Regions from separate parts of the Homo sapiens genome. Here regions 1 and 2 are each linked to region 3. The links come from fine-mapping of genetic effects on gene expression. A gene starts in region 3. Each other region holds a variant in brackets. All regions are shown on one strand. Distances are between the middles of the regions. Region 1 overlaps STAP1 (signal transducing adaptor family member 1). Region 2 overlaps STAP1 (signal transducing adaptor family member 1). Region 3 holds the start of STAP1 (signal transducing adaptor family member 1).

The links.
Region 1: its variant is fine-mapped to the expression of STAP1 in whole blood (INTERVAL, PIP 0.93).
Region 2: its variant is fine-mapped to the expression of STAP1 in whole blood (TOPMed, PIP above 0.99).

Annotation. Positions count from the first base shown.
Region 1 is chr4:67,579,179-67,581,950 of GRCh38, forward strand. STAP1 (signal transducing adaptor family member 1) reads left to right here. Exons shown (of 9, transcript NM_012108.4): 5 at 2,127-2,293. Among named protein-coding and RNA genes, the nearest start is that of STAP1, 22 kb to the left of the region's middle. The variant C/T (reference allele first, on the strand shown) is at 1,099.
Region 2 is chr4:67,605,222-67,607,993 of GRCh38, forward strand. It overlaps STAP1 (signal transducing adaptor family member 1), which reads left to right. Exons shown (of 9, transcript NM_012108.4): 9 at 1,075-2,116. The coding sequence ends at 1,136. Among named protein-coding and RNA genes, the nearest start is that of STAP1, 48 kb to the left of the region's middle. The variant T/C (reference allele first, on the strand shown) is at 1,665.
Region 3 is chr4:67,557,510-67,560,281 of GRCh38, forward strand. STAP1 (signal transducing adaptor family member 1) reads left to right here and starts at 1,218. Exons shown (of 9, transcript NM_012108.4): 1 at 1,218-1,420. The coding sequence starts at 1,301.

The DNA of each region.
Region 1 (2,772 bases), 22 kb after region 3:
GTTGCCTCAAATTGTGTATTCTGTAAATGTTGTTTTGTGTTATGATTCCAGATCATGGTATATGAACATTTACAGTATGTTGTTATTAGGATGACTTTAGTAGAGAAGTGAGAGAAGCTCAGACTGTATGTAGTTGAAAGAGCTGAGACATTGCTTTTGAATCAAATAAACCCCAGTTTGGGTCCTGGTTCCATAACTTACTAGCTATTTGACTCTGGACTAGCTATTTAATCTTTCTGTGCTTGATTTTTTTTTCTATTTGTATTAGGCCATTCTTGCATTGCTATAAAGAAATACCTAAGACTGGGTAATTTGTAAAGAAAAGAGGTTTAATTGGCTCCTGGTTCTGCAGGCTGTACAGGAAGCATGGTGCCAGCATCTGCTCAGCTTCTGGGAAGGGCCTCAAGGAGCTTTTACTCATGGCAGAAGGTGAAGGGGGAACAGACATATCACATGGTGAGAGTAGGAAAGAGAAAGAGTGGGGAAGAGGGACCACACACTTTTAAATGACTAGATCTCACAAGAATTCACCCACTAACATGAGAAAAGCACCAAGCCATGAGAGATTCATCCCCATGACCCAAACACCTCCCACCAGGCCCCACCTCCAACACTGGGGCTAATTTAACATGAGCTTTGGTGGGAACACATATCCAAACTATGTCACCATTTGTAAATTGGGGATAACAATACCATTTTTTTTTTGAGATGGAGTCTTGCTCTGTCACCCAGGCTGGAGTGCAGTGGCTTGATCCCGGCTCACTGCAAATTCCGCCTCCCAGGTTTAAGCAATCGTCCTGCCTCAGCCTCCCAAGTATCTGGGATTACAGGCACATGCCACCCAAAATTTTTGTATTTTTATTAGAAACGGGTTTCATAATGTTAGCCAGGCTGATCTTGAACTCTTGACCTCAAGTGATCCACCCACCTTGGCCTCCCAAAGTGCTGGGATTACAGGCATGAGCCACTGCGCCCTCCCGTATAACAATACTTTCTAGCATTTCTGTGAGGAGTTGCAATAAAACATGTACAATGCTTGAGCTATAATAGTCAATTAATAAAGATATGTGTTTCATTAGGTATTTTCCCCCATTATTT[C/T]ATTTTTTTCTGGTATATATGGAAATTGTTTTACTGGTTATTATCTTAGTTATCTAAAATGTCTCTAAGCCTTTTTTATTGTGTATCTGTATTAGTAAATGTTTGTGTAAATTTTATATGTACTTGTACGCATATTAAAACATATATAATAATAGAAATTAGTGAAATAGTAACTTAATAGAAAGTGAAGTTATAATGTTTTCTTCCCATACTCTAATGGACTTTCTTGTATACCTCCTGGAAAGCATGCACTCTTCTCTGAAGATAAAGGTGATAATCACACAAGGCTGCCTCCAAATAAAGACTTGCTAGGGTCACGTACAAAAAATATCTTACCATTCACACTATACCTTCTAAGAGCACAGAGCTGGTCATAATGAGGTCAAAATTGCAGGTATGAATATAAATCAGAAGGACATATATAGGTGAGTCAATCTGAAATACATCTCTAGGAAAGGTAACAACCACCACAAAACCAACTAATAAGTAGAAAAGTATCATAATTCTAACATGTGAATGAATGTTTGAAACACACCACAGACGCAAAATTTCGACCTCTGACTGCTGCTCTTCAGTCACCTAATGAACAGTTCCATCTGAATCCCATGTTGCCATATGGCTGGGGGAAATCTTTTCAGATAACTTATGAGAGAGTGAGGTACCTTGAAGGTGTTCTGGAAAATCCCTGGCATTGATGAACTAGTGAGCTCAGAATGAAAAATATGAGGTTTGTTGTTACTTGAATTAGCTTTTAGTGCAAGGCGGGGTGTTCTTTGCTTTGGGGCCAAACCAAAAGGATGATTCCTTGGCAGAAGGGTAGGCACTCTGTGCAGGTTGTAGTTGGTGCAGAGGCGGTTCTGAAACACCCAACCTAGACTAAAATCCTCTGTTTCTTATTCCCTTAGTCCCTACTCATTCACCTCTGTCAGGTAACTGTAGCCCTATAGGACCAGAACAGGGTCGTCTTTACTAAAGTTATAAGTTATTAAGCTGTTTTCTTGCCTGCCTACTCTTTTAATTGGTTTCAGCTGTCAGTTCCCCAAAACGTGTCACTCCTACCTGGGCAAGTAATTAAACTGCATGAAGTCCTAGAGAGAGAAAAGAAAAGGAGGATTGAGACAGAGCAGAGTACGTCCGTGGAAAAAGAGAAGGAACCAACTGAAGATTATGTGGATGTACTGAACCCTATGCCAGCGTAAGTGCACAATGAACTGCAGTTTATTCATTCGATTGTTAAAACTAATTTCTAATTATAAAGGAGAGTTAGTCACTTGCTCTTGTTAAGCCAGGGACAATAAGCAGTCTTGGGGATAAACTGTATATCTCTGCGTACATGCCATATTTCCTCTTCTATGTCATGATCAACAAAATGCAGATTTGAACCAACCATCTTACCACACAGGAAATCCCCTTCCACCCACATCTTTAGAACAAATAGATACTCTTTCCAGAGCTCACGCCTAAATAAAAACTCCCATGAAGAAGGCAGGAAAAGATATTTTTTCACTATGCAAACTCTATGATTGACTGATTTTCTCTCAGAAAATTATACCAATAAATTTTCAATACCTAGAATGTTCTATTCAACTGACCAATTAGTCAGTAGTCATCAAGCTTGTACTTTGACAAAGGCCTTGTGTAAAATGTTTAAGGTGTTGGAAAAATAAAGAAGTG
Region 2 (2,772 bases), 48 kb after region 3:
ATGTAATTCCAATTCTCCCCTCTGCCCACCTTTCCTGATTTCTCTGGCTGGAAGGCTAAATTTTCTCTTGGGGTTTTAGGTGCCCATGCTGTCACTGCCAAAGTACTGCACCTTGACTAGGGGCCCCACCCTCAGGGCAGGGCCAGGGAAGAAAAAATAGACAATACAAAAAAAAAAAAAAAGCACCTTAAGGATTTTAGAAACAGACAACCAGATTGCTATTGGTATATGACTGAATGTGTTCAGTTTGCTTTGTGGTCGGGAACAAACTACTCAGCCTCCCCCTGCATTTCAGATGCCTTTGTTATAGGGACTGGGGAATGACATAAGAACAGATGGAATTAGAGGGTCCTGTGAAGAAAGACTTTAAATAATTAGAATATTATCTGTAGTGTAACGTATTTTCTTTCAAAAGCAGAAAAATGATGGAAAAGTACATGACAATGAAAATAGGACTTTTTAAGAAAAGCTACACAAAGATAAAAACTTATCTTGACAAATAATGCTGATATTTTAAGAAAACTTTGTGGAACCCTAACATTGCTTCAGGAATTTGGACTCATAGCTGGCTGTGGCACAGTGAGACTGCTAGTACATCAAACTTGGGAAATGGGAGTTGTAGAGCAGGTAAGGGTTCCAATCTGGAGATTTGGAAAAAGCTAATATGTAATAAAATATTATCTAAAAGAAAATAAGATTTTTTTGATCCCTGTTAACCCATGTCAGCATTTGGCTCTCTCTTACACCAGAAGACAAGAGCAATAATGGAACAAGAATGGTCAAAGATATTTCCCAACTCCAGAAATTAGCAGTTTAAACTAAAAGCCGCTTCAAAATATAAGGCCTATTAAGCTAAAGAGGAAGAAAAAAATTATTAGGTACAAAGTTACAGGTCCAGGATAAAATAAAATTTAAAAAAGCATCTGAATATTCAGTATTTATTTTCCTAACAATTACTAAACACACCAGCAATGTTCCACACACGAGCAGGAAAATCAACTCACTGAAAATAAAGAACCACCGTTTTCTACAATATTGGTTCGCTAATTAAGTTTTTCTACCCACAATTTCTAGGTCAAGAACCCAGTATGGAAGGGAGAAGTGAAAAGTTGAAGAAAAATCCACACATTGCATGAAATACAATGTGAAAGCTCCTTTGTATATCTTGGTAATTTATATTTTCAAAACGAAGTTCTTACTTTTAAAGAGAATTACCTATATTCTCCTGATACTGATTACCAAGTCATTCACCTGAACACCAGAATTAGAATTAAACATTGTACCATACAATTTCATTATCTTATCAGAATGAAACCAATTCACAGGGAAACTAGAGACTACGGCTGTGGTGGTAACCTGCAGATATACACATTCCCATGCACTGACATAAGTTGAAAACACATAGTACTTTCTAGATGGAATTTTTTTCTTTAGGCCTCAATGAAATACATTTCCCCTATATAATTCCAACAGCAGTTTCTCTAGTTCTAAATTTTACCAATTCCCAAAAAACCTAAGTTTTGCTGAAATCTGATTTGACCAATTTATCAAATATGTCATTTTAATTACCTAGCTGGAAGTTAGAGACATGAAATGTACTAGAGGAGCCCTTTTCCAATGGAAATATTATATACCACATTTTTTGTTAATGGAAATAAATGTCT[T/C]CATTCCCATGTTTTTCCCTGGTGTCATCTTTTTGCCACTCAAAATCAGCCCATTATTTCCTTACAAAGATGGTGAAAGGCTGTATCATCATCTTGTCGTAAGTACGATGAGCCTGATTATAAGTACCTGGAGTTCTTAAAAATATGGAACCATCAGCCCCAGACTGCATCTACTGAATCAAAATAACAGGGATATTTTTTCATAATTTTTTTCTTCAAAAGCAAACTTCTAAATTGATTTTGATGGTTATCAATTTGGGAATCACACAATCAACTAAGAATGAAAAGATATGGTCTATATTCTACAGGGGAAAGACTATGTGAGACAGAGGGAGAAAACAGCCATTGACAACTCAAGGAGAGAGGCCTCGGGGGGAAAAAAAGATCAACCTGGCCAAAACCTTGAAAATCCGGCTTCTTGACTTGTGAGAAAATAAATTTGTGTTCCTTAATCCACATGGTCTGTGGTATTTGTAATGACAATCCTACCGAACTAATTCAGTGAGCTTCCTGGGATGCCTGAAAATATGAAGAGTTCTCTCAGACTTACTGAATTATAATTTTGGGGGTGGGGGGGCGGCGCTGAGGCTGGTCCAGAAATCTGCCTTTTAAGCATACAACACAGGTAATTGCTATACATAACAAATTTGAGAACCAGTTCTTTAAGATCTACTATAATATGAAGATAAATAATCTGTGTAGCAATATATGCAAAATCAAGTCAGGCTTTCTTTTAAATGGAGAGGCAGTGACAATTAATAAGGAATCATAAATATGACAAATGAAAACATTGAGAAATGCTTTTCTCTATGTCATTTTGATCTTTTAATTTCTGGAGTGTGAAAATACTTTATTAAATTTCAAATGAGATTGTATTTTAGTTTAAACCTGACAAAAAAGTGTATAATAAATATGACCCAATGTTTACTTTTTGTCTAAAAAAAAAATTGGGACATAAAGCCTGAGCATTAATGTTAAGTATTTATTGAAATGTATTGAGTATTTATATAAATCACTGTTAATGTAAAAATTATAAAAGCAGCACATATGTATTATTCTCAAGGGTTTTACAATTGAGTTGGTCAAAATATAGGTAGATGAGACTAAA
Region 3 (2,772 bases):
GAAATGTATTTCGCTCATGGTTCTGGAGTCTGGAAGTCAAAGAACATGGCCAGCATCTGATGAGGACCTTCATGCAGCATCATTCCATGGCAGAAGATAGAAGAGCAAGAGAGGATGATAGCATGTGAGAAAGTGCCAAACTTGATTTTATAAAAAACCCACTTCCAGGCCAGGTGCAATGGCTCACACATGTAATCCCAGCACTTTGGGAGGCCACAGCAGGAGAATCGCTTGAGCCCAAGAGTTTGAGACCAACCTGGGCAACATAGGGAGATACTGTCTATACAAAAAATGAAAAAGTTAGCTAGGAGTGGTGGCGCGTGCCTTGTAGTCCCAGCTACTTAGGAGGCTGATGTGTGAGGATTGTTTGAGCCTGAGAGGTCAAGGCTGCAGTGAGCTGTGATTGCACCAGTGTATTCCAGCCTGGGCAACAGAGCAAGACCCTGCCTCTGAAAAAAGAGAAAGAAACCCACTCCCACAGCATTAATTAATTCATTCATTCATGAGGGCAGAGGCCTCATGACTTAATCACCTTCTAAAAGTCCCATTTCTAAACACTGTTGCATTGGGGATTAAGTTTCTAACACATAAGTTTTGGAGGACACATTCAAAACATAGCACTAAATATTCATTGGGAACTCATGTACTTGGAATATCTACTGGCAAAAAAAAAAAAAAAAGAAAGAAAGAAAAAAGAAAAAAATTCCATATTCCGTGTTCCCATAATTGTGGTTTATATTTAGTGAAGCATCAAATGAGCATGAGATACAACTATTTTTTTTATTTACACAAAACTTGACCCTAAAATATTTAACCAACAGAAGTAGTACTAATAAAATTATTCTATGAAGTAATTTTTAATGAAGCTGAGTTTATTCAAGTCATGTCTTCTGCAAATAAAAATGGACACCAATAAACAAAAACAAAGATAGAAAGAATAACTGTGTTCTTGATATCTCCCCTAAAGTTCACAATCTCTACACCTGTTTCTTTCATCTTCTGGTGATGTTAATCTTCTGTTTATTTTGCGCTTTAAATCTAAGCACATGTGGATTACCCAGAGATTGCCCTCTGAAAGTCAGTCTACACCTGTTCTTTCTTACCTCACAAAAAGTAATGGAAAAAAAAGTGTGTGTGTGTGTGTGTGCGTCTGTGTGTGTGTGTGTCCTGTTGGTGGTAGTGTTGGTGGTTAAAAAGCAATTTGGGACTTCCTCTTTGAACAGTTGCCTTTTCCTCTCACAGAAGGAAGATTTCATTTTGTTTGAGACGAGAAACCAAACCACACACCAAAGAGAGGGGTATGATGGCTAAGAAGCCCCCAAAACCAGCCCCTCGCAGGATCTTCCAGGAAAGGTTAAAGATTACTGCTCTACCTTTGTACTTTGAAGGTTTTTTATTAATCAAGCGGTCAGGATACCGGGTGAGTCTATAGATGATAATGTTAAACCTAAGACTTCTGTTTTAATTTAATATTTATTTCATGGTGATGTGATGTGTTAAGACCTCCTTGTTTCTGTTGAAATTAAATCATCTTCTCTTCTTTGAGCTCAGAAAAATGATTCCAATTTTTCATAATTTAAATACAATGTCTGGCTTAAACCTGTATGTATACACATATATAATATGTATAATAACAGAGGTTGTAATATTAAGGCACTAATATAAAAAAGTCAATAAGCTAAATTTCCAAAGAATTTATTTAAATATCACAAAAGATTTTGGCTTGGGAGATAAAATGTTTCTTGTATTTTCTCCACAATTTATTGCTATGCTTCAATGATGACATGTACCATTAAGATAAAATGATATCATGATTAAAATTAAACCTGCTCCTGTTCTGAGTCATTTGAAGTTTATAATGATCAAATTATTAAAAATGGCTTTTGTAAAAATTGTTAAAATGACAAAGTTCATACTGTTTAACATTATATATAGTTATGTGTTCTAAAATACTATTCAAGATAGTGACTTTTAATTTTTGGGGTACTACTGTGGGTATTAAGTACACTAAGCTACATAAATACCTTTGCTCTAAGAAAATCCATGAAGCATTCTGTATTTTTAAATGTAATAATTAAAACTTATAGTTAGTTAAAATCATTACTTTTAAAACAGTAATTATGGATGACTTGAAATTAATTAGAGAAATAAGCCCAAAATTGCCTGTTATTAAATAAAAAAATCATTAAGTTAGGTCAAATTTTATGAAATTGTATACTGACTAAAACTAGAAAAATTTTAAGGTTTTCAGAAATTCCATCAGAAATGTTTAATGATGCTAAAATATATTTTCTGAGGATTTATGAATACTTGTGGAAAAATTATATATATGAAAAATCTATAATAGCATATTCACATTTCTTACATATATAATCAGATCATTTACTATTTGAGAGTAAAGACATGGTAATTTGTATTCTGTTATGGATGTTAAACATGCATAAATAATTACCTTTCAGTTATATTAGAATTTTTTAGATTGATCCTATATGCTTTTAATGTAAATTCAATCTTGTCACCACAGGTAAGCCACATAGTCACACTTTGCCAGGAAAGGGAAGTTGAGAAAAAAAAATTCTAATTAGTAATTTAAATCAGGTTGTTCATTGAATGTTTTCCAAGGTATTTATAATAACTGTTTATGATAGCAGTTTTTTTTAAATGCTTAAAGAAGACATGTCATTGGTATGGTTAGCAGAAAGAATAAGAATTTTAGAGTGTCCTTTATCTGATGGTTTTGCCACTTATAGCTTGTGATCTTGTGCAAGTTAC